2 separate regions of the Homo sapiens genome follow, and region 2 is linked to region 1. Evidence: fine-mapped expression QTL. A gene starts in region 1. The other region holds a variant in brackets. All regions are shown on one strand. Distances are from middle to middle. Region 1 holds the start of RAB44 (RAB44, member RAS oncogene family). Region 2 overlaps RAB44 (RAB44, member RAS oncogene family).

Region 1 (12,201 bases):
TAGTAACGGAAGGAGCCCTTCTGCAGGCCTAGAAGGCTCAAGGAAGCTGAGGGTACAAGCTTCTCAAGTGCGTCTATCCAAATATCTCCATTCAGGTCCTAATGCCCCATTCTTTCCCTATCAGAATTCTGACCCTAGGGTAGTAGGTCTGCTGAGGCTGTGCCTTTAGTCTCTCTTGAAGCTTCACCCCTTTTACAATCAGATCCTGGGCCTGATTTTCAGCACAGCCTACTCTTGGGCCATGAGAGATAAGTGTCATTTAGAATGCTGTTATGGAGTTCTGTCTTCACAACATACCCTGAGTTTTCTTCAAGGTTTCTAGGGCAATTAACAAAAGCCAACCAACCCCATAATCCTTATCATTACTATTGCCCTGTATCTTTCAAGTATTAGACTTACAGTGTAAGTCAGTGTTGCCCCTGAAATTTTACCTGTGCCTCATCCCAATCCACTACACACATTGTGGACACTGTGATGCTGTAGTCTGCCAAGAGTTATCACCACCTTACTCACTACCAGCATTTGGGTCCGCGTTGTCACTTCACTGGTGAGGGATCTGTTTTCAGAAGCCCATCCTGCTTCTGCCATTTCTGGTAACTGTCTTAGTCACCCCCAACCCCCACTCCCCAAACAACTTGAGACAAGGACTTGTGTGCAGGTGGAATGCCTGGGAGGTAGTCCCTGGAGGCACAGCAGGAAAGTAGAGAATGTGAGAAAGAAAAGGAGAAGGCCAATAAAGGTGTCAGTGAACAAGTTCCACTGTGTGCAACTGGGGCTTAAACCTGCTAGGGAGCCTCAAGGAAACCGTGTGGAACACACCCTACAATTTTCTCTCTGGAGTACTCACCTGGCTATCTAGGCTACTTATCTAAGGACACTGTCCATCACTGATAGGGCTGCCTCTAGGGCCTAGTCCAGATTGCTCCTCATGGGGTGGAAGAAATTCCTGTAATGGTGAAGAAAACCAGAGGGATGAAGACATTTGAGGTGGGAAATCATTAGCCTGCCAGGAACTATCTACCAAAGGTTTAGGTGAACACAGATATGGGCCAGATAGTGCCTGAGCTCACGCCCCTAGGAAGTGGTGAGGGGCCAGGATGTCCACGCTGATGACTCCAGATCACACTGCCTGCTCAATACACCAGAAAGGGGAAGTGCCTCACCCAGGGCCACTGCTGCCGTGACAATTCTAAGAGGAGGCTTGCAGGGACCCACCTCTTTCTGTGCACCTCCTCAGTCTTTGATGTAACTTAGGTTTTCTCAATCTTATGTAAAATGCTACCCAAATGCAGCTTTGAAGCAAGCTCCCTGACCCTGGTTTTCTGTGGGATTGCCCACCTGCCTAAGCTCCTTGAGCTATTTTGGAGTCAGTAGCTGGAGGCAGGGAGGCTCAGGTCCTAGCTTGCACATCAGCTCACACTGCAGGGCCCTAGAATGGAGAGTTTGTTGCTTCAGGATTTAACAAGCTGTGAAGAGCTTTCAAGCATCTGTAAGGAATTAAAAATTAGTGAGTGTGAAAACTTTCCTAATTGTAAAACAGTTTCACTGCCCTTGATCCTTGTCCATTGATTCTATTTTTGCAAAACCTAGTTCCGAGCACAGTGTTTTTAAGTTCAGCAACATCGTATTTTTCAGTTAGCTCCATCGTTTCCAAACGTGCCTGGATCTAATTTTTCTCCTAGCGCTTGGTGTGTCCTGGCAGGTTTTTTCCCTGGGGCTGGTGCCAAGGACAAGGCCAGGCTGAGCTCTCAGCACCCGCAGGACTCCTTGGCACTCCGGCTCCACCCGCGAGGGTGTGACCACTCTTGCCTTCCCCATGTCCCTTTTATTTCCATGGTGGGGAGCAGGGCCGGTGAGGGTTGGGGGGCAAATAAACTGAGGATGCCTTGAGATCCTGAGGGCTGGGCCTTAAAAATCCAACCCCACTCTGTTCTCAGAGGAGTGGAGAGAGTCCTTTGCTGCAAAGAAGGTCCTGGACTTGTTGCATTTGCCCAGATAGAGCAGCAAGCCCCGCTGGCCCTATTTTCAGTACATATCCCGAGTCCAGCCACCTTTCATCACCTCCACCACTGCCCTCCGCGGCCAAGCCACTGCCTCTTGTCTGGATTATGTTAACTCCTCATGGGTCTCCCTGCTGCTGCTTTTGCCTAGTACAGCCTCTTCTCCAGAATGAAAGCAGCGGGGGGATCCCTTTCAAACCTAAGTCGGTTCATGTCGCCCTCCAAATGGGCCCATATGGTCTCCGGGTCCTGCCTGTTTCCTCTGTCTCCATCTCCGCCCATCCTTCCCTCTCCCGCGTGCTCCCACCATGGAGCTCTCCTCGTTGTTTCTCTTGCACACAAAGCGTGCTCCTGCCTCGGGGCCTCGGCACTCACCGTTCCCTCCCCCTCGAACCTCTTCTTCCAGATCTTCTTTCTCACATGTCCTTTCCAACATCACCTCCTCAGGCCTCCCCTGAGCACCTCATCTAAAATACACCTCACACCACCATTCTAGCCCTTCAGTCTACTTTGCTTTTCTTCAAAACAATTACCACTGTTTGGCATTATATTACATATGGCTTTTTTTACCCTACATTTTTCTACATTTTCATATTCTATATTTTCTATATTTTGTATTTCGTAGCACAGTGTCCAGCACCTAGAAGTGCTTAATAAACATTTGTTGAATAAATAAGCCGGGTGCGGTGGCTAGTGCCTGTAATCCCAGCACTTTGGGAGGCCGAGGCAGGTGGATCACTTGAGTCCAGGAGTTCCAGACCAGCCTGGACAACATGGTGAAACCCCTATCTCTACGAAAAATACAATAATTAGCTGGGTGTGTTGGTGCATGCCTATAATCCCAGCTACTTGGGAGGCTGAGGTGTAAGGATCTCTTAAGCCCGGGAGGCTGTAGTGAGCTATGATTGTGCCATTGCACTCCAGCCTAAGCAACAGAGTGAGGCCCTGTCTCAAAAATAATAATAATAATAAATAAATGAGTACCTTATTTAGTTCAATAAAGCCTCAGAAACTCTCTGAGTATCAATTTCCTCAGATAGTTGGTTGTGAGAATATTCATTTATTTAGAAATTAAATTTAATAATTTTTAAAACTTTTTGTTTTGAAATAATCTTATACATCCAGAGAAGTTGCAAATATAGTAAAATAATCCCCATATACCCTTTACCATTGTTCCTAAATGTTAACATTTTACCATGTTTCCTTCATCAGTCTCTCTTTGTATATGTACATACTATTGTTAAGTTTCTTTTTGAATAGGTAATGTATACAGATAGTACACAACATAAAATACATTAAAAGTAAACAGTGAAACATAAATCTGCCCCCTCCTCCATCCCAACACTTCTATCCAGCCCAAATCTGACTAGTTTCTTGTATATCCTGTCAGAAATGTTCTATGCATTTACAATCATATATGAATGTGTGTGCTTATCTATTTTTTTCTTTTTTTGAGACAGGGCCTCATTCTGCCGCCCAGGCTGGAGTGCAGTGGTACAATCACGGCTCACTGCAGCCTTGACCTCCAGGGCTCAGGCGATCCTCCCACCTTAGCTTCCCGAGTAGCTGGTACTACAGACATGCGCCACCACGCCTGGCTAATTTTGTTTATTTTTTATAGAGACAAGGTTTCACCTTGTTGCCCAGGCTGGTCTTTAACTCCTGGGCTCAAGCAATCTGCCTGTCTCAGCCTCCAAAAGTGCTAGGATTACAGGTGTGAGCCACCTCACCTGGCCTGTATTAGTCCATTTTCACACTGCTATAGAGAAATACCGGAAACTGGGTAATTTACAAAGGAAAGAGATTTAATTGACTCACAGTTCCATATGGCTGGGGAGGCCTCAGGAGACTTACAATCATGGCGGAAGGTGAGGGGAAGCAAGGACCTTCTTCACATGGCAGCAGGGGAGGAAAGTATATAAGCACAGGAAAAACTGCCATTTATAAAACCATCAGCTCTCTTGAGAATTCACTCACTGTTACGAGAACAGCATGGGGGAAACTGCCCCCATAATCCAATCACTTCCTTCCTTTGACACATAGGGAGTATAATTCAAGATGAGATTTGGGTGAGGACATAAAACTTAACTATATCACGGCCCTTATCTATTGCATATATTTCATACACACACATACACTTTTTTCTTCATAAAAAGCACACTATCCTCACTGTTCTGCACCTTACTTTTTTCATATGACACAATATCTTGAAGGTCATTCCATATCACTCCACCTGGATCTTTCTCATTTTCTTCACGGTGCAGAGTATGCCAATGTTCGGATGTATCAGAGCTCATTTAACCAGCTCCCTACTGATGGAAATTTAGATCATTTCCAATCCTTTGCTACCACAGACAATACTGTAATGAGTATCCTTCCATACTGTCATATTGTATATCATCTGTGGAATCAATGACTGAAAGTGAAATTGCTGGGTAGAAAGATTTTTGCATTTTAAATGTTGACAGATATTATACACTTCTTTTCATAAAAGTTGTACCAGTTTATATTCCTGCCAATAATGTGTGAATGTGTTTCCTACATCCTTTATGACATAATATATCACTTTTTGGATCTTACTAATTGAATAGCTGAAAATGATGTCTCGGTGTAGTTTTATTTTTTATTTTTACCCTCATCTTCTTTGTGATGGTACGTAGTTTTATCTTTTATTTCTCTTATTATATTTTTATAAACAGAAATGTTTACTTTTATAAATATTTTTCATATGTTTAAATCCATTGATATTTATTTTTCCATGAATTGTTTATTCACATATGGTGCCAATTTCTCTAATGCATTATTGGTCTTTCATTGATCTGCAGGAGTTCTTTACAGAGGGAGGAAATTAACTTATTTTCTATGATACGTAAGTATTTTTTCAGAGTTTGCCTTTTGACTTATCAGTGGTGACCTTTTTTTGCCATTCAGTTTTATTTATTTTTAAAAAGTTTCCGTATGGTTGAATGGCTCAATATTTTCTTTTGTGGCTTCTAATGCTTTGTGATATATCTGGAAAGGCCTTGCCTAATCCAAGATTATTTAAAAATTATCCCATGATCTCTTTCTTCCTTTTTTTCTTCTTTCTCTTCTTCTTCTTCTTCTTCCTCCTCCTCCTCCTTCTTCTTCTCCTTCTTTATTATTATTATTTTTTAATGGAGACGGGGTCTCACTATGTTGTCCAGACTGGTCTTGAATTCCTGGGCTCAGGCGATCCTCCTGCCTCAGCCTCTCAGAGTGCTGGGATTACAGGCATGAGCCACCACACCCAGCCTATCCCATGACAGATCTATCTTTCCTTCCTTCCTTCCTCTTTTTTTCTTTCTTTCTTTCTTTCTTTCTTTCTTTCTTTCTTTCTTTCTTTCTTTCTTTCTTTCTTTCTCTTTCTTTCTTTCTTTCTTAGTTTCTTTCTTCTTTCTTTCTTTTTTCTTTCTTCTCTTTCTCTCTCTTTCTTTCTCTCTCTTCTTTCTCTTTCTCTTTCTCTCTCTTCCTTCTTCCTTCCTTCCTCCCTCCCTCCCTCCCTCCCTTCCTTCCCTCCTTCCTTCCTTTTCTTTCCTTCCTTCTTCTGCAACCATGGCAAATGAACTATGCCATGATTTCTTATGGCATTTGTTCAAACATACAGAAAAGCAGAAGAACATAATGAGCCTGCAGTACCCTCATTAACTCCAGCAGGGATCAGAACAGGTCCAGAGCCAGTCTTGTTTCATCTATGTCCTACCTATTCTCCACACTCTTCAATAATTTTGAAGTAAATCCCAAACAACATATAATTATGTGATTTTGATTTTTAAAATGCTTATGTCTTTTATCCATCTGGAATGCTTTTAGAGTTAGAGCTCTTTGTTTTTTGCAGATACCTAGCCCATTCTCCCAACATAGTTTATTGAATAAACCATCTCTTCTCCAATGATTTGAAGTGGTGCCTTTATGATACACTAAATCCCCACAAATATTTGAGTCTATTCCTGTCCCACAAATATTTGAGTCTATTTCATTATTCTGTTCCACTGATTCATCTGTCTATAGTCATGCTCCAATTCCACACTGTTCTGATGGTTGTAGCTCTACAGTGTATTTTGGTATCAGACTAGATTGTTCCCTAAAAGGTGGTTTAGATATAAAGCCTCCCCTGAGGCTCAAAGACACTGTCTGAGAGTGAGGGCCTGAAGTGAGGCAGGATGGGCAGTTCTCCCGGGGCATCCCATACACTTAGCTTCAGCCACGGCTGTGCCCATCAACCTGCTGCTGTCTGGGATAAGGCATTGCCTTGGCAACCAGAGACTGAGGCCCAGTCCTGGCTGTGCCACTAAGGGCTGGGTGATCTTGAGCAGTCCATCTCACTCTTTGGAGCCTCTGCTTAGGAGGGCCTCCCTGCCAGCTCCAGCATTCTCCACTTCAAGACACCAATCAGGGCAGGGATGCCTGGGGGTGCCAGGCAAAATTGTGAAAGGGCCGCCAGTGGTCGCTTCCACAGGAAGTCCTGTAGATGAGCACAGGAGATTGGCTCGCTGGGGAACGGAAAGGGAGATTAAGCAAGACAAGACTGTTAACAGTTCTAGAGCTCGTGGGCTCCGCAGGGCAGCAGTCACCCTACCACCAGGTCCCAGAGCCCAGGGCTGTGTGTTCCACTGGGAGCCTTTGAGAGGTAGGAGCCATCCCAAGGTTGCAATGCTTCTTTTTCTTTGGAAGGATGAGGATGGGGGAGGGAGCTGGGGTCCCTGTTTAACTTCTATGTCAAGGGTGCAAAAGGCAGAGCCCTCTTTTCTCCTGCATTTGGAGCTCTCTGCATGGTCTAAGGGAGGGGATGGGAAAGCACTTGGGCAAGAGGCTGGGGTACATCACTACCCGTAAATGGCTGTGTGACCTAGGGCAAGTCACCTGGTTTCTCAGAGCCTCAGTTTCTCTGTTAGTTAGGAGAGGAGGAGTGAGGATAAGTAGACTGGAACAAGACACTAGGTGGTCTCTCAGGCCCACTGACTTGGACCACTGGGGTTTAGCGACTGTGGCTATTATTTACAGCTATTGAAGCCAGCCAAGTGGAGAGCAGACCCAGTTCTGAGCGCCCTTTGGTGAGACAGTGATGGATACCCGGAGGCCCCAGGCAGGGCCCATGCCAGGTTGTAATCTGCTGCTGCCTGCTGCCCCACCCCACTCTTCTTCTCTGGCTTCCACTTCCTGGTGGGCAGCCTGTGGTGCCTGCTGCCTAACAGAATACCACGGTGGTAGTGGATTCCCGCAGGTGCTTGGGAGTGGGATTCATTTGCTCTCATGTTTGGCTTCAAGTTTTATGCGATTTCTTAGGTGAGGGATGTGGGGAGAGGTGGTCATGCTGAGGGGCTATATGTGTGTCCTAGCCATGAAGGGGTCCCCCACTCTTAAGGACGTGAGGCATGAGGATGCACTAAGGGGAAAGTGGTGGAGGAGAAGGGCGCTGGCAGGGTGGCCCTGCCAGCTGACTCGGAGGGATGTGTGTGCTGGGCGACGGCATTTGCACATGCAGAATGGAATGATGGAATGGCCGTGAGGGGTGCTGTGTCTGACTGAGAGGCTGATGGTGAGGGATTGGAGGGTGAGGATGATGGCCAAGGAGGGTGTGTGTGCGTGCACGTTTGCACGTGTACATTTGTGGATTGACTGAAGGATGTCCTTGCTGTCTCTGAGGGACCAGGCCTGGCCTAGAAGGGACACAGACTGTTTTTAGGTTGTGCTGTCAGGCCGTGGGGGTGCTGTCAGGGATCTGAATGTGAAGGCACGAGGGGTGAGTGCACCATCCCACCTGATGGTGACAAGTGACTGATTTTGAGGTGGCGATGGCTGGAGGGCACCTGCTGCCTTCCTGCCCCAGGCCACCTGTCAGGCAAGGAGCGGGTGGCTGAGTACCCCTCCTGGGAGAGAAGGATTGACTGGCAGAGAGGGCAGATGCTGAGGTGGGGCAGGCGAGGTGTCTGGAAGGTGCTATTTTCTTAAAAAATGCCAGGGGACTGCTGGAAATGGGCTGTGGAGGTGTAGCTTGGCTAGGAACTCCCAGAAAGGAAAGTCAGGAATGCCACATGTCCTAGGATGTGGCTGCAGGGAATTTCTTCCAGGATTCTAACATCCTACACCTGTGGGAGCCCGGCAGGCTGCGATGTGACACTCACATCACAGTGGACTTTGCTTCTGGAGGCTTCTGCACAGGGAATCTTATCTTGCTCCCTTGGCCGTGTTAGCTCCATTGCCGGAAGTACATGAGACATTGGGCGTCACCACAGGAGCCAAGCCTGTCAACGCCCACCCCGTTCCAAAGCCCTTGTCCCACTCAGGGCTACTCCACTGGGTGTTTGTCATCCCCAGAGGGGCCTTCTGCCCAGGGAAGAGCCACCTCTGTAGCCTTGGGGAAGTCCATCCCATGACCAACCAGAAGAGCAGAGTCTGGTGTAGTTCTACCACTGACATCATGGCTGGGGCAGGTCACTCTGCCTCTTGGAACCTCCCTCAGTTTCCTCATCTGTCAAATGGGATCAATTGTATCTGCATGGAACCTGGCTTTTATGTGCCTCAAATAGAATTCACCTTTATCAATATCATCACCACTGTTGTCATTGCTACCTTTACCTGGTAGTCACTGATACCAAGCGCACTCCTAAGTGGCTTTATGTGGATCATATATTCAGCAAATATTTGCAGAGTACCAACTGTGTGCCAAGCGCTGTTCTAGGCTCTTGGGATAGAACAGTGAACAGAATGGTCATCTCCCTACTCACGTGAGGCCTCTATTTCAGCATGAGGAGAAGGAAAATTTACAACAAAAACGAGCAAAAGGCTCTCTATTCTGGGAAGGTGACAAGTGCTAAGAGAAAGTGAAGCTGGAAAGGGAGGTGGGCCATGCTGGGGAATGGGAACTGATGTTTCAACTTTAATTATCTTGCTTAATCCTCGCAGCATCCCCGTGGGAGAGATATTAGTCCTAAGTTTCCAGTGAGGAAACTCAGGCACAGAGATGCTGATTGACTTCCCTAAGGTTGCACAGCCCATGGGCAGCAGAGCTGGGAGAAGCAGAGGTCTGTCTGACTTCACAGCAATGGGACTGGAAGTCACTTTCTCTTGTGAGCCTCCTTTTCTGCATCTCCAGGTCACGAGAGTGGGACTGACCCTCATAGTTCTGAGGCTCAGTGAGTCTTTCTTTTAATTTTACTTTTTTATTTTTTTGAGACAGAATCTCACTCTGTCGCCCAGGCTGGAGTGCAGTGGTGAATCATAGCTCACTGCAGTTTTGACCTCCTGGGCTCAAGTGATCCTCCCATCTCAGCCTCCCAAGTAGCTAGGACTACAGGCACCCCACCATGCCCAGCTAGTTTTATTTTATTTTGTAGAGACAGGGTCTCGCTATGTTGCCCAGGCTGGTCCTGAACTCCTGGGCTCAAGTGATCCTCTCGCCTCAGCCTCCCAAAGTACTGGGATTACAGGCCACCACGCCCAGCTTATTTTGTTGTTGTTGTTTTGTTTATTAATCCCCTTCTATGCTACAGGGAGTCTTTCTTTGAGTGTAACCTGCAAGGCTGGAACTGCCAGGCCAAACCCCATTAGCCACTGAAGAAGGGTCATAGGCCCATGGAGGGAGGGGGCTCCCCTCTTAGGGGGGATGGGGAATGGAGATAGATGGTGTCTTTCTAGGTGTGGAAGGCCTCTAGGCCCAAGAAGGGGTATCTATGTGGTCACTGTTTCCATGGAGCAACATGGGATGAATTAGGGGTGAGAGATACCGCGTGAAGGCCAGTTAGATTAGCATGGGGACTTCCCTATTCTAACCCGTAGAATCTTATTCCTCATTCTTGGCTTTTTTGCCTCCCTGCTTTTTATTAGAAAGACTTTTTTTCTGAGACAGTGTCTCACTCTGTTGCCTAGGCTAGAGTGCAGTGGTGCAATCTTGGCTCACTGCAACCTCTGCCTCTTGGGTTCAAGTGATTGTCCCACCTCAATCTCCCTAATAGCTAGAACTTCAAGCACACGCCACCATGCCTGGCTAATTTTTTGTTTTTGATAGAGATGGAGTTTCATCATGTTGCCCAGGCTGGTCTCAAACTCCTGGCTTCAAGTAATCCACCCCGTTGGCCTCCCAAAGTGTTAGGATTAGAGGTGTGAGCCACTGTGTCTGGCCGTGATATTTTCTGAGTCTCTTCAGTTGTCTGTTAGAACATTCCACATTCTAGGGGACCATGAATCAGCAGAGGAAGTGGGTTGAGAGCCCAGTACATATCCTAAGCAAGGTTGGGCACTATGAGGGCATCAGGGTTAAGTATAATCTCTCCTGCCCTGGAGCTCACTGCTAAGCTATGTCACCTCCCCCAGGAAGCCCTCTCTGACACCCTGATCAGTGAGTTGCTCCTTTTTCAGTGCTCTCCCAGCACCTGACACACAGGTATGCTGCCCCTTCTGTGCTGCACTGTAATTATGTTTGTGTCTCCTGCATGAGGCTGTGAGGACCCCTAGGGGAGAACAGGAGTTAGTCACACCTCTACCTGCAGGGCCAGGGACTCTGCTGGGGTGTACAAGGTGTGTCCTGCACAAGGATGCCCAGCCAAGGGGGTGCATGGGGACTGGAATCCAGCCCACATTCCACTTGTCAAACCATGAGCCCTGGCACTGGGCTGTGTCTGCCAGCAGGAAGTACCTTTTCCTAATTCACTTAAAGGAAACATATGGATTGCAGCGGGCCTGCTTAGCACTGTACCGGCATTCAGTTGGCGCTCGGTAAATGGTTGTTGCTTATGTGCATGATAGAGGGTGGGAAGGGTTGGGGCAGATGAAAGTCTTCAGAAGAGGTGTGCTGGTGACTATTCTTTGGTGGGGGCAGGAGACCTGATTCATGGCATTTGCTGATTCCCATGGTGCCAATACTCCCACAGTGGCTGATGCCAAGCTGCTGGGATAGGAAGGGGTGTGCACAGTCAGCCCTCACAAGCCCCTAATAGTGGACTCCAGCTCACCACTGCGGTTTTACATTTATGATCTTAAAACTTCATCTGAAACAGACTTCGAAGGGGGAGAGAGAGAGAGAGAGAGAGAGAGAGAGAGAGAGAGAGAGAGAGAATGTACTTCTGTTTGAAGTTTGGGGCCTCCTAAGGATGAGAGATTGCTTCATCCAGTTCTGTGCAACCTGTGCCGTTCCCCTTGGGAAGCTTGCCCAAGGGGAGGCCGTGGAATGACCCCCTGGAATGAGCCCATGAGGCCTAAAGCAGAGCCCTCTAACCACTCCACCCAGCCTGTCTGTGGCCTTCGGCCTCAACAGAGAATGCCCAGGGGAGATATCTATTCCATCTCCTGGGCATGAGCCTTACTATTCTGCCTCGATTCCTTCACACACACTGTTTACTGCTTCCAAATCCTACATGCCTCCTGCAGAACCTGCACAAGCCCCACCACTTGCAGGAAGCTGCCCTGTCTGTCTGGACATCAAGTCCTTCTCATCCCATAGCTTTATGGGCCCCAGACTTGTTCCCGCAAAGCAGGCTCAGACTTTATCCCTTTCAAACCACAGCCTCTCTTTTCCTCACCCCAGGGGCCTCACCTGGATGAATCCCCAACCATCAAAATCCTTATCAATTGACTGAACTAAGACATTCAGTGACAGGTGAATGAACAATGAATTTGACACCCCTTACTTGAGCACTTGACATGTGCTAAGGGGGCGGGGAGCAGTATGGACCTAGATAAACAGTGATATCCACAGCTGGGGCAGCATGGGGCCTGCCTTAGTCTGTTTTGTACTACCGCAGATACCATAGAATGGGAAATTTACATAGAGCAGAAATTTATTTCCTCATCCTTCTGGAGGCTAGAAAGTTCAAGATTAAGGAGGTAGAATCTGGCGTGGGCCTTCTTGTGGTGTCTTCCCATGGTGGAAGGCAGAAGGACGACAGGGAGCACGAGGGTCTGAGTCCATCTTTTAACAAGGAACTCATTTTTACAATAATGGCATTCATCCATTCATGAGGACGGTGCCCCCATGACCCAAACAATTCCCATCAGGCCCCATCGCCCAACACTGCTTCACTGGGGATCAAGTTTCCAACACATGAACTTTGGGGAACACATTCAAACCATAGCAGGGTTGCAGACAAGGGGGCACTGAGCCCAGCTTGAATGCAGGGGTGACTGCAGGGAAGGCTTCTTGGAGGAGGCAGCCTGTAAGGTGAGGAAGCAAAAGGTATTAACTATG
Region 2 (12,201 bases), 35 kb after region 1:
AGCCACCCAATCACCTGTCCTTCTAAAAATGCTGGTCTTCTACTTTCAACCTAGGCAGTAGTGATCAAAAATTTTTTTTTCTTCTTGAGATGGAGTCTCGCTGTATTGCTCAGGCTGGAGTACAGTGGCGTGATCTGGGCTCACTGCAACCTCCACTTACCGGGTTCAAGCGATTCTCCTGCTTCAGCCTCTGAGTAGCTGGGACTACAGGTGCCCACCACCACATCCAGCTAATTTTTGTATTTTTAGTAGAGATGGGGTTTCATCATATTGGCCAGGCTGGTCTCGAACTCCTGACCTCGTGATCTACCTGCCTCGGCCTCCCAAAGTGCTGGGATTACAGGCATGAGCCACGGCACCTGGCAGTGATAAAAACTTAAAAGGCATATCTTATTTGATTCTGCAGTTCCACTTCTAGAAATTCATTCTATAAATAGACTCATATGACTATAATAACAAAGGGACCAGGACCAGTCATAGTATTCTCACTTGTGTTATGAAACATAGGAAACAACCTAAATGTCCATCAATAGGGGACCAGTTAAATAAAGGAGGGTCAATCTACCCAGTATAACACCATAAAGCCACACAAAGACTGAGGACTCTCTTTATGTACTAATAGGGATTTTTTTTTTTTTTTTGAGACAGAGTCTTGCTCTGTCACCCAGGCTGGAGTGTGGTGGTGTGATCTCAGCTCACTGCAATCTCCACCTCCAGGGCTTAAGTGATTCTTGTGCCTCAGCCTCCTGAGGAGCTGGGACTACAGACACATACAACCACATCCAGCTAATTTTTGTATTTTTAGTAGACACAGGGTTTCACCATGTTGGCCAGGCCGATCTGGAACTCCTGACCGCAAGTGATCCTCCTGCCTCAGCCTCCCAAAGTGCTGGGATTACAGGCGTGAGCCACCGTGCCCAGCCCGATAGGGAAATTTCTCCAAGACATCCTGTTAACTGGAAAAAAACAAAATGCAGAACACTGAATATTAATGAGTATGATGAATGTTTTACACTGTATTTGTATAAAATAGAGGGGGAAAGATGTATGTGTATGGGTGTATATATGTGTGTGTATATATATGTATATACGTAAAATGCCTCTGGAAAAATATTTAAGAAACTGATAACCCTGGTTGCCTCTGGGGAGGGGGACTGGGTGGCTCCAGGATGGGGCAGAAGGAAGGAGACTTTTCATTGAGTTCTCCTTGAGACCTTTTGAAATTTGAGCCATGAGAACTGTTACCTAGTCAACAATAACTACACTGTACGAAGAAAAGCATACGGACATGCTCTGTGGGAAGCAATTAGAAGTAGGATAGGTTACTTCTCCCACTTTGCAGAGGCCAGGGCCTGGGGTCTGGATGCCTGGTGTGGCCTCATGCAGACTCTCTGGGCAGGTACCACAGTATGACGCGACAGCTGCTCCGCAAGGCTGACGGGGTGGTGCTCATGTACGACATCACCTCCCAGGAGAGCTTTGCCCACGTGCGCTACTGGCTAGACTGTCTCCAGGTGAGCAGATGGCTGCTGGGGTTGGCCCCAGTCCCTCCAGTCAAGAGGGATCTTATATCCTGCCCACTCCCTCTTTTCTCCCAGGATTACAAATGACATGACAGACATATGGGTGACACCACCCACTGAGGGCATGTGGTTGGATGAGCTGGGAATGCAGTAGTACAAAGAAACCACAACCACATAGTACAGACTTCAAACCAAACTACTTCCTTTATCCTGTGAACATTCTCTTCCTACATATGGCAGCTGTTTGTAATGTCTTCTTCTTACACTTGAGGCTAATGTAGTTCTTGTGCCATTCCATGTGGTAATTCCTCTGTTCACACATCTCTAGTTTTTCCCCTGCTTACTTCCTCAAAGCATATATACTGAAATTCTGCAGTGTGTACTAGCACAGCAGAGGGGTGTGAAGTTAGCCATGTTGCCTTCTCTCTGGAAGTTTCTAGTTTAGCAAAAGAAGCAGGATAAGGTAATGTGTGAAGAGGGGAGCTGAGCACTGGGGTCTGACAGGACCTACATTTGAATCCCACCCACCCGAACTCTGTGACTTTGGACAAGTGAATTGAGTTCTCTGAACTTCAATTTCTGGAATTCTCTCATAGGGGAGTTGTGACAATTAATTGATAGAATTGCTTTCAGCACAGCACCTGGTGTATAGCAATCACTCACTAATCAGAAACTATTATTATTATTCATGAGACAATTGGGAAAATGTATAATCAAGTGCTGGACTGTTCAGAACAGGCAGGAAGAGAGGACATGGGCAGGAACAACCCAGGAAGGCTTCCTGGGGGAGGTGTTCTTAAGGTTGGCCTTGGAAAATAAGTGAGATGTTTATCAGCAGAGAGGAAGGATGGGGGAAAGGGTCCAGGTGAGAAGGTTATGGAGTGGATGTGGCCTGGGAGGGGGAACATGCGGGGGACACAGTTCAGCTTCTAGGAAGGCAAATGTGCCAGGAGCCTGGCACACAGTGGGTGTGGCTGACAGAACATGTTCTGTGTGCAGGATGCAGGGTCGGATGGGGTGGTCATCCTTCTCCTGGGAAACAAGATGGACTGTGAGGAGGAACGGCAAGTGTCCGTGGAAGCTGGGCAGCAACTGGCCCAGGTAAGCACTTGGGCATCAGCCCGTCTCTGTGCGTGGACTGGGCAGACACCTCCCTGGCAGGTGGTGGATAGGCATCACCTGACCTGGGCAGCCGAGAAGAACCCGTGGCCCATTCCTGCCCCTGCCCCAACCAAAGGCCTGTTCAGAGTGGACAGCAGCCTAGCCACCTCTGCCTCCCACACAGCCCTGGCCTCTGGAGATGCGCTTTAAGCCCAAACCCAAGGCTGGAGTGGCGGGCGTGACACTGAACCTCACTGTTGAATTAGCACATTCCCACACCATGTCCCCACCTACATAAGAAATAGCTTCAGAGTAAAAAGGTTTTGAAAGCTTTGCTTAAAATTCCCAATCAAATTTTAATTTTATCTCTGGTCTCTAATTAACGTGCTGCCTTCTAAGTTCTCCTATTTTAAGACTCAAATTCTCCCTTGGGATGATTACATCAAAAGCCCCACTGCCAGACAGTGAACACTATCTATTCATGAATGGCATTTAACCACATTCCAGAAAATCTGGAGAGTAATAAAAATAGAGGGAAAAATCACTCCTCGCCCCACCTCTCACACAACCCCTCTTGGCATCTTCCTACTGTATTTCCTTCCTGTTTCTCTTCCCACTTCCCGTAAATTGTGAGGTCATCATTGTGGCTCCTGCTGGAAGGGAATTTTTTTTCTTTCTTTCTTTCTTTTTTTTTTTTTTGAGATGGAATCTTGCTCTGTCACCCAGGCTGGAGTGCAGTGGCACGATCTTGGCTCATTGCAACCTCCGACTCCCGGGTTCAAGCGATTCTCCCACCTCAGCCTCCTTAGTAGCTGGGATTACAGGCATGTGCCACCACGCCCGGCTAATTTTTGTATTTTTAGTAGAGACGGGGTTTCACCATGTTGGCCAGGCTGATCTGGAACTCCTGACCTCAAGGGATCTGCCTACCTCGGGCTCCCAAAGTGCTGGGATTACAGGCGTGAGCCACCATGCTCGGCCTTTTTCTTAAAAGTAGTAACTCATCCCTTTGACATAGTAATTTATCCTCTAGCAATTTATCGTAAGGGAAGACTCAGAAGTAATAATCCCTAAAGGAACACCTAATGGATACCCATGTATAACGTACAATCGAACAGGTTTATATGAGGGTTTTCAAATATTATTTATAAGAACAAACATTTGGCAGCAATTGGTGGTTAAACTGTGGATGTTCATGTGAGAGGTTAGTATTTGCCATTAAGAATCCTGTCTTGGAAAAATATTTAAGGGTGTGGGGGAAATGCTTACAATATAATAGAAAATCATATAAGCAGCTACAAATCTAGATATAGGTTAGGTTGAAACATATGAAATTGCTGATATTTGACTGGAGCTTGCCAAAAATAGCAATTTCGTGTGGTTTAACCTAACTGTACAGGACAGTTAGCCCCCGCCCCGTAAAAGGGTTATATAAAACAGAATGGCAATATCTACCCAAACACTAACAGCAGTGGTTTAGATATTGAGCTGGTACTGTCTTATACTATATCTTCCAATATTCCCCCAATGAAATATTTCTGAAATTAAAAAACATAACTAACATTTATAAAATGTCTCCAGGGGCATTTCTCCAAGTTGGGATGCAGGCTTCCCATGCCACTCCGAAGGCTGTGAAATGTCTCTTCAATGCATTCCTTGACACCTTGGCCAGCCGGGGTGAAGGGACAGTGGGCAAAGGGCTCCAGGCAGGGACCGTGGCCCACGCTGAGATGGGGCTGTCTTGCTCGCCACTGAGGTCAGCTTAGGGATGCATTGGGACTCTGATGGCCGGGACTTTAGTGGCGGGGTATGGCCTGGCCTTTCAGTTGTCTCTCCCAAGGCACATATGTCCCTCCCTGTCTGGCCTGCAGGAACTGGGGGTCTATTTTGGGGAGTGCAGTGCCGCCTTGGGTCACAACATCCTGGAGCCTGTAGTAAACCTGGCCAGGTAAGTGCTGCCCGCCCCCCGCCGCCCCCACCCCCCCCCTTGCAGAATCCTCTGGGACAGCTCCGGCCCCACTCTTGACTCCCAGGTGGGACAGGAAGGCCCATTCTGAGGAAATGGGTCAGGGAAGCACCTAGTTAAAGACCTGGGCTCACCAGTCTGAGGGGAGAGAGAGCCCTGCACTGAGAGTCTCCTGACTCCAGCTCTGCCCTTCCCGTTCGCTGAATCACTCCCCACAGGCACTTAGGCTCTCTGAGCCTCAGTTTTTTCATTTGCAAAGAGGGCTGAGAAAAGGAGTGTCTCTCTTCTGCTCCCAAACTTCCAGTAGCTTCCATTAAAATCCAAATGCTTTGCAATGGCCTGCAGCATCTCTAGTGCCATCTCCCCCACCCCTACACACACACACATTCACTCACACCCACACACACTCACACTCTTACACACACTCACACTCACACACACACACTTGCCAAGTTCCAGCCACTCAGAGACTCCCTCCCTGATCACCCACCTGCCATCACTATTTTGGATCACAGCCCCTGTTTGTGTCCTTCATGGCCCTTCTTGACACGACACATATTAATGATATATGCATTTATCTGTTTTCTTGTTGTCCAGGAAGGCAGGGCCATGTCTGTTTTGTTCAGCCCCTCTCCCCATACCTGGGACCTAGGTGCTCCATAAATGAATAAAATGAGTAAGGCATGAGGGGAGCTAGATCAGATGAGCACCATCTGGCACACAGTAAATATATCACGAAGAAATGAATGGACTTCTTTTGCTTCCCCAGCCTCCAAGCTCTCTCGGCACTGAGCCGCGCCATGGCCCTCTGCTTGGGATGCACCTCCCCCACCCTTTCTGCTGGCATACCTTGTCCATGGCTCAGTTCGGTCACCATCTCCTTCCTCCCCAGATCCCTCCAGGACCTGGTGTGAAGTCCCTGTGTGCCTCCCCATCATTCCCGGGCTGCAGTCACCCCTTTTCCTGTCTGTCTCTCTCACTACTCAAGGGAGGGAATGGTGGCTTCTTTGTCATAGTCAGAGTCCTGCACAGTGCCTGGCACATAGTAGGCCAGAA[A/G]GAGAAGGTCAAAGTCTCAGTGACTCAATTCTTCGGGTCTCATGTGGAATGCAGGGCAGGGGCAGAGCTGTTGTGGGGGTTGTGGGTGCGGCCTCCCACCCCCCAGCTGCACCCATGGGCCCATCCGTGCTGCCCGTAGGAGGTGAGAGAGAGGCCTGATGCCTGGCACTGTCACATAGGTCACTCAGGATGCAAGAAGAAGGCCTGAAGGACTCGCTGGTGAAGGTGGCCCCCAAGAGGCCGCCCAAGAGATTCGGCTGTTGCTCCTGATCACCTGTCCTGTCCTGGGTAGGATGGACACCCATGGGGTTTCCTGTCCCTCAGCTCCTGTCCTTTGTTCCTGGACAGCAACGACACAGAGGACCAGCTTGGAGGTTCAGGAAAACCCTTCTCAACTCAGGACTCGGATCCCAGAGCAGGGCCGCATCACCTCTGCCTTTCACACTCCAAAGGAGGGCTTTGCTGAGTGAACAAGGCTTGAGGGGCAGGGGTATGGCAAAACTCTCCAAACAAAGAAAGTCTAGAAAAACGACTTAAGGAAAATACACCAAAATATTGGCCGCACATCTGTGGGTGTAAAATTTTAGGGAGAATGTGGGGGGGGGGTGTTACTTTCCATTTTACACATATTTGTATTTTCAGATTTTCAACAATAACAGTATTCAATACATAATCAGAAAAAAGAGATGTGGAGGAGGAGGAGAGAAACTTCCCAAGGAGCTCCCTTGGGTGCTGCTGGCTCCTAATTAGTGTAACCTGTTAATCACATGTTGCTCGGTGTTAGAGCGGTCCCTCTGTGCTCTGCTTGGCAGGGCGCTGTTGGCCTGGTCTCCCTCGCTATTTCTATTTGCAAGCATGGGCTTTCTTCCCAGCAGAATCTGGTTCCTGGGAAGAGTAATGTTCCAAAGGCCTCTGATATGCCTCGATGCCCTCCTGTCTTCCAGAGCCCCAACCTCACTCCCTTTCCCCACCATACAAAACACACCTCCCAGGGGTCACATTTGGGGGTCCCGCCCCCTGCTCCAATGCCATGGTGTCCCCAAGCACAGGGCTTTGGCCTGAGTTGTCAGTCTCTGGATGCATTTGAGGGGCAGCTAGGGTGTGGCTGGGGGGTCCAAGCAGCTGGGGAGCCGAGACTCAGAATCATTCACACACTTCTATTTGGAGCTTTTGTGGAAGTTTCCAGAATTCCATAATATTCACCTCCTGAATGGTGGCTGCCCCTTATCAGCTAGGGCTGGGGTTTCCAGTGCCCTCGGAGAGCTTGCTTTAGAGTCTTGGAGAGACGGCCATGGTCTTCGTTTGTATGTCTGTCACATCTTACCATCATCACAAATTGAATATACAACATGTGCCAGGCACTGAATTTGTTTGTTTGTTTTTTGAGACAGGATCTCTCTCTGTTGCGCAGGCTGGAGTACATTGGCATGATCGCCACTCACAACAGCCTCAACTGTCTGGGCTCAAGTGATTCCCCCACCTCAGCCTCCCAAGTAGCTGGGACCATGGGCACATGCCACCACATCCGGCTAATTTTTTAGCTATTTGCAAACACAAGGTCTTGCAATGTTGCTTAGGCTGGTCTCAAACTCCTGGGCTCAAGTGATCCTCCCAATGTGCTGGGATGACAGGCGTGAGCCACCGCCCCCAGCCTGGGTTTGGTATTTTGTAATCCTTCAGGTACTGGGGAATTTCCTGGCTGAATCAATGGAAACCCCAGTTTCATAGGGGGACAAGCAAAGACAGTTCAAGGAACAGAGTTACAGAGAGAGAGAACGAAGGAGAAAGAGGGAGCAACAGAGGGCTGTTGCATCACACAGTCTTAGGCCCTGGCCCCAACCCCTCTTCTCAGTTCTGAAAGGAACGTCTCAGCAGCAGTGAGCCTTCCATCACCAGAGGCGCACAAGAAGACAGGTAATGCTTGGCAAAGGTGAGGTAGAGAAGATCCCAGCATCTGAAGCTGCCAAAGTTGGATTAGATTCCCTTAATGGACCCCATTCAACCTCCAGACTCCATGTGGATGATTCCCATGGTCCAGCTGATTCTTTGTGTGTTTTTGTTTTGTTTTGTTTTGTTTTGTTTTTTTGAGACGGAGTCTCACTCAGTCGCTAGGCTGGAGCACAGGGGCGCAATCTCGGCTCACTGCAACCTCCACCTCCCGGGTTCACGCCATTCTCCTGCCTCAGCCTCCCAAGTAGCTGGGCCTACAGGCGCCCGCCACCTCACCCAGCTAATTTTTTGTATTTTTAGTAGAGACGGGGTTTCACCATGTTGGTCAGGATGGTCTCGATCTCTTGACCTCATAATCCACCCGCCTCGGCCTCCCAGAGTGCTGGGATTACAGGCATGAGCCACCGCGCCCGGCCCTCCAGCTGATTCTTTTACTGGGCCCTTCACTGATCCTTTTTACCCCAATGTCTTCTCCCATCTCAGGTCCCCTCCCGCAGCCCACAAGCCTGCCCCTGAACTGAGCAGTTTCTCAGTGTGCTCAGAGAGAGAGAGAGAGAGAGAGAGAGAGAGAGAGAGAGAGAGAGAGAGAGAGAGAGAGAGAGGGGTGTGGGCTGCAGTGAGTGATGCTGGCCCTGGATAAGGATGGGAAACAGGTCCTATAGTTGCTAATGGCTCTTTCTCTGGGGCCCAGGGACCTGGCAGGCACCAACATCTCTGTCCTGTAGGCCAGGGAATTAATGAGGCAGGTAGGCAGGGTGTGATTCCTGGGAGAGGCAGTAGAGCAGACAGCCCCTGTCGTTTGGGGGCCCGGTACGGGAGTGGCCCCCAGGCCTCCCCGTCTCAGCTCAGCTCTGTTGTGGCCTCAGGCAACTCAGGTTCGCAGGAGGTGGAGTTCTGGGAGGAACTCCACACTGCCCAGCACCCTCTTTTGGCTTTCTTGGGCCGGATCCACCTGCTGGGCAGGGCACAGCTGTGCAAGGACCACCAGCCTTTCCTGCTGTCAAAGGGCTCACAAGCCAGGGAACAGGACCCAGGAACCTCAGAGCAGCACAAAGTAGGCAACGACAGCAGCAGGAGAAACTTGAGGTAGACTTCAGAGTGAACTTCCAGGCAAGTGGTGAGTTCTTGGGGCATGTCAGCCAAGGAGGCTCTGATTTAGGCTTAGCCAGAGTCTGATTAAGAAAAGGAGGGTGGGACTGGGCTGATGGGACTCAGGCTGTGGAGTGAGAAGGGAGGGCATGGGGAGAGAAGGAAGGCTGGGCAGGAGCTCTAAGAGAAGAGGGCTTTTGGGAGCTGAGGGTGAGCAGGGGCAGAATGACATCCCTCCTTTACCCAGTGCCTACCGTATGCCAGGCACTGTTCTGAGCACCTAGCTCGTGTTAATTCATTTAGCCCTCACACCATCAGGCGTGCTCCCCCATCTTACGGAAAAGGAAAGTACTGCATAGGGAGGCTGAGTAACTTCCCCGTAGTCACGTAGCAAGTAAGTGCTGGAGCCAGTGTTAAACGCAAACGCCGATACCCATAGACTTAACTCTGAAGTTATGCAACTGCTTACAGGAAGATGCGGATGCTTCGGGGAAGGAGGGGCCAGGTCCCTGAAGCCTCGTATTGCTCCCTGCCAATTCCTCTCCAGTAATAGTCCATGTCATTGGTGGGTGTGGACCAGGAAAAAGAGACGAAAAGGCAGTGATAAATGCCAGGAAAGTGGCTGGATGACAGCCTTCATCCAGGACAGGTCCTTCATTTCCCCTCCTCCTGCCGTCTCTGAAGCTGGTGGGACCCGGGAAGGTGGCCGACATCAGAATTCACAGAGGCCCCCTCTCCAGTCTCCCCTCAGCTGCCCTCAGGCACGTTGCTGCCCTGGGGCCCCAGAGACGAAGCCAAGTTCCCCAGGCTGGGGCTCTGCAGGAGGGACTCAGAGACTCCTTCAAACCTGGCTTTGAGCCCGCAGGAGAAGAGTGTCTCCAGCCCCCACCCCGGTGTGGTAGAAAAGGGGAGGGCAACTCCAGTAAGGACTCCTCTGCTATGTCTTGTTTGCTGCTGGATTCCGGGAACCTGGTCCAGAGCAAATGCTCAGGAAATATGTACTGAGTTAGCAGGCAAGCCTCCAGCTAAAGCTCCCGGGCCCTGGCCTGGCCTGCAGGGCGGCCAATGGTGACATCAGCCACTGGGCTGGCTCTAGGATGTCTACATCCCATCTTGTAGCCAGAGTCCTCCCAATCGGGGACTCCCCCTGCCCTTGACATGTGGGACAGAGTGGGGGTGAGAAGAAAGGTCTGACCACTGGGTGCAGACTCCCCCACTCTGCCAGGGGCCTGCACAGCATAACCTAGAGGGCAATGATTCCCAGGCTGGTCTGCCCTTAGAATTATTTGGGATCTTTCAAAAATGCTAAAGCCCAGACCAACTATGTCATGTCTCTGGGGGTGGGACCCAGGCTTCTGTATTTGTGAAACTCCTCAGGTGATCCCAAAGTGCAGAGAAGCTTGGGAACCACTGGAAGGGGCTTCACACCTTCTCAAAGCCCTTTCAGACCCACTTTTCCATTTGAACCTCAAATTAAACCTGCTTGTTTCACAGGGCAGGGTTTTTGTTTTGTCAAAAAATAGATACATATGTGTGTGTGTATGTATGCACATATATATTTATCAGATTATGAAAACAATGTGTACTCCCTGCAGAAATTTTAGAAATAAATTTTAAAGAAGAAAATGAAAATTACCCTAGTCTTACCACTTATGATAGTTACTATTGACATCTGTTTTATTTTATTTCCTTGCTTTCTTACAGCTGAGGAAACTGAGGTAGAGAAACATTAAGTAACTCTCCCAGGGGCCAGGTGCGGTGGCGCCTGTAATCCCAGCACTTTGGGAGGCCGAGGCATGAGAATCGCTTGAACCTAGGAGGCGGAGGTTGCAGTGAGTCAAGATCTCACTCCAGCCTGGGTGATAGAGTGAGATTCTGTTTCTAAAAAAATAAATAAATAAATAAATCCCAGGGTACTGGAGCTAGCAAGCAGCAGAGGCAGGATTTGAACCCAGGGTACTAATGGAGTCCATCCCATGGGGTTGTCATGAGGTCTGCAGGGGCTAATGTGTGCCAAGGACAGGCCTTATCTGGGCCCACTACATGCAGGGGGTCTGTGAAAAAAGGAGGCTTAGCAGGAATGGGGAAGGCGGCCTTTGGGGCTGGCTGGTTTCTACTTTGTCCTTGTGTGTTTGAAACAGAATGGAGCCCAATGCTACGTTCACCACGCAGCTCACGGCCACACCTGAGCGACTGCTCCGACTCATCTCTGCTGGGGTCTGTGGCCTCATCCTGCTGGTGGGGCTGTCAGCTAATGGGCTCATGCTGCTGGTGGTGGGCCGGGGCCCGGGCTCCCCCCACCCGCTCCACTCCCTGACCCACAGCCTCATGATGAACATCACGCCATCTGACCTGCTCTTCCTGGCCTGCGTGGTGCCTGTGCTGCTGCTGAGCTTCCTGCAGCACAACTGGTGGCTGGGCCCTGCCATCTGCACCATTAGCCAGGCCACCAACACAGCCACCACGTTCTGCATCTTCTATAGCATGGTGGCCACAGCTCTCCTGCGCCATGTGGCTGTGGCCCGGCCTGACCTGGCCTTCCCAGCCGGCTGGGGCACCCTCTTGCTGCTCTGTGGGGCCATGTGGGCCCTGGGCCTTACAGAATCCCTGCCCAACTGGCTGTTCCAGAGGGTGGCAGTGGAGGAGGAGACAGCGGGGGCTCCCAAGACCCAGGCCTGCCTCTTGCTCCTGAGCCCTGCTGGGACCTCCTGCTACATCAGCCTGCTGGGAGCCCTGGCCTTCCTGCCATGCACGCTGGGGCTGGGCTGCTCTTTCAGCCACGTGGGCTGGCTCCTGTGGACCCAGCCCCAAGGTCCCATGGGAGAGAGCATCCAGGAGCATTAAGAGAACATAGGGCTCAGCCTTGTGGTGCTGGTGGTTTTTGTGCTGATGTGGGGGCCCTGCTCCATGCTGGGTTATGTGGCAGCCATGGGCTACCTGCCTGCCACACCGGCTGCTTTTGTGGCCTCCAGCCTCTGCACCATCCTGGCCTACTCCAATTGCGCTGTCAGCCCTATCCTCTGCTTCTACCTCTCCCGCCCCTTCCAGGCAGGACTCAGGGACCTCTTCTGCAGGCCGATGATGGCCAGGCATCCCAGAGGTGTGGGAGTGGCAGCCTCAGTGGTGGCGACTGTCCAGCCTGGCCGTGACAGGGCCTCAGGAGGCCTGTGGGGCCTGGCGGGGGTCTAAGAGTATAGGCTGATGGATGCGCTGAGATTCAAGGGAGATGGGAAGACCCTTAGGGACCTGACAGCCCATCCCCTCTATTTTACCAGTGGAGAGACTGAGACCCAGAGGGCAGATGGCCCAAACAAGGTCACAAAGCAACTAAATGGCTCAGCTAGAGCTCACATCTCTAGGTAACCAGATGGATCCTCCCACTCCACTTTCAGGCTCAGATCTCTGTAGGCTCCACTGCTCTCTAATTGTGTGATCTTGAGCCTCTGTGTCTCAGTGTTCTCATCTGGAAAATGGGATGATGACAGTACATACCTTCTTCACAGGGTTGTTATGAAG

Evidence for each region. PIP is the estimated chance that this variant, and not a neighbour inherited with it, causes the effect.
Region 2: its variant is the best candidate, but not a certain one, in a credible set for the expression of RAB44 in lung (TOPMed, PIP 0.79).

The regions. Positions count from the first base shown.
Region 1 is chr6:36,691,268-36,703,468 of GRCh38, forward strand. RAB44 (RAB44, member RAS oncogene family) reads left to right here and starts at 6,559. Exons shown (of 14, transcript NM_001257357.2): 1 at 6,559-6,648.
Region 2 is chr6:36,726,178-36,738,378 of GRCh38, forward strand. RAB44 (RAB44, member RAS oncogene family) reads left to right here. Exons shown (of 14, transcript NM_001257357.2): 11 at 1,400-1,514; 12 at 2,523-2,624; 13 at 4,496-4,572; 14 at 5,826-7,007. The coding sequence ends at 5,916. It also overlaps the pseudogene GPR166P. Among named protein-coding and RNA genes, the nearest start is that of RAB44, 34 kb to the left of the region's middle. RefSeq lists enhancers at 482-621, 9,083-9,584. The variant A/G (reference allele first, on the strand shown) is at 5,647.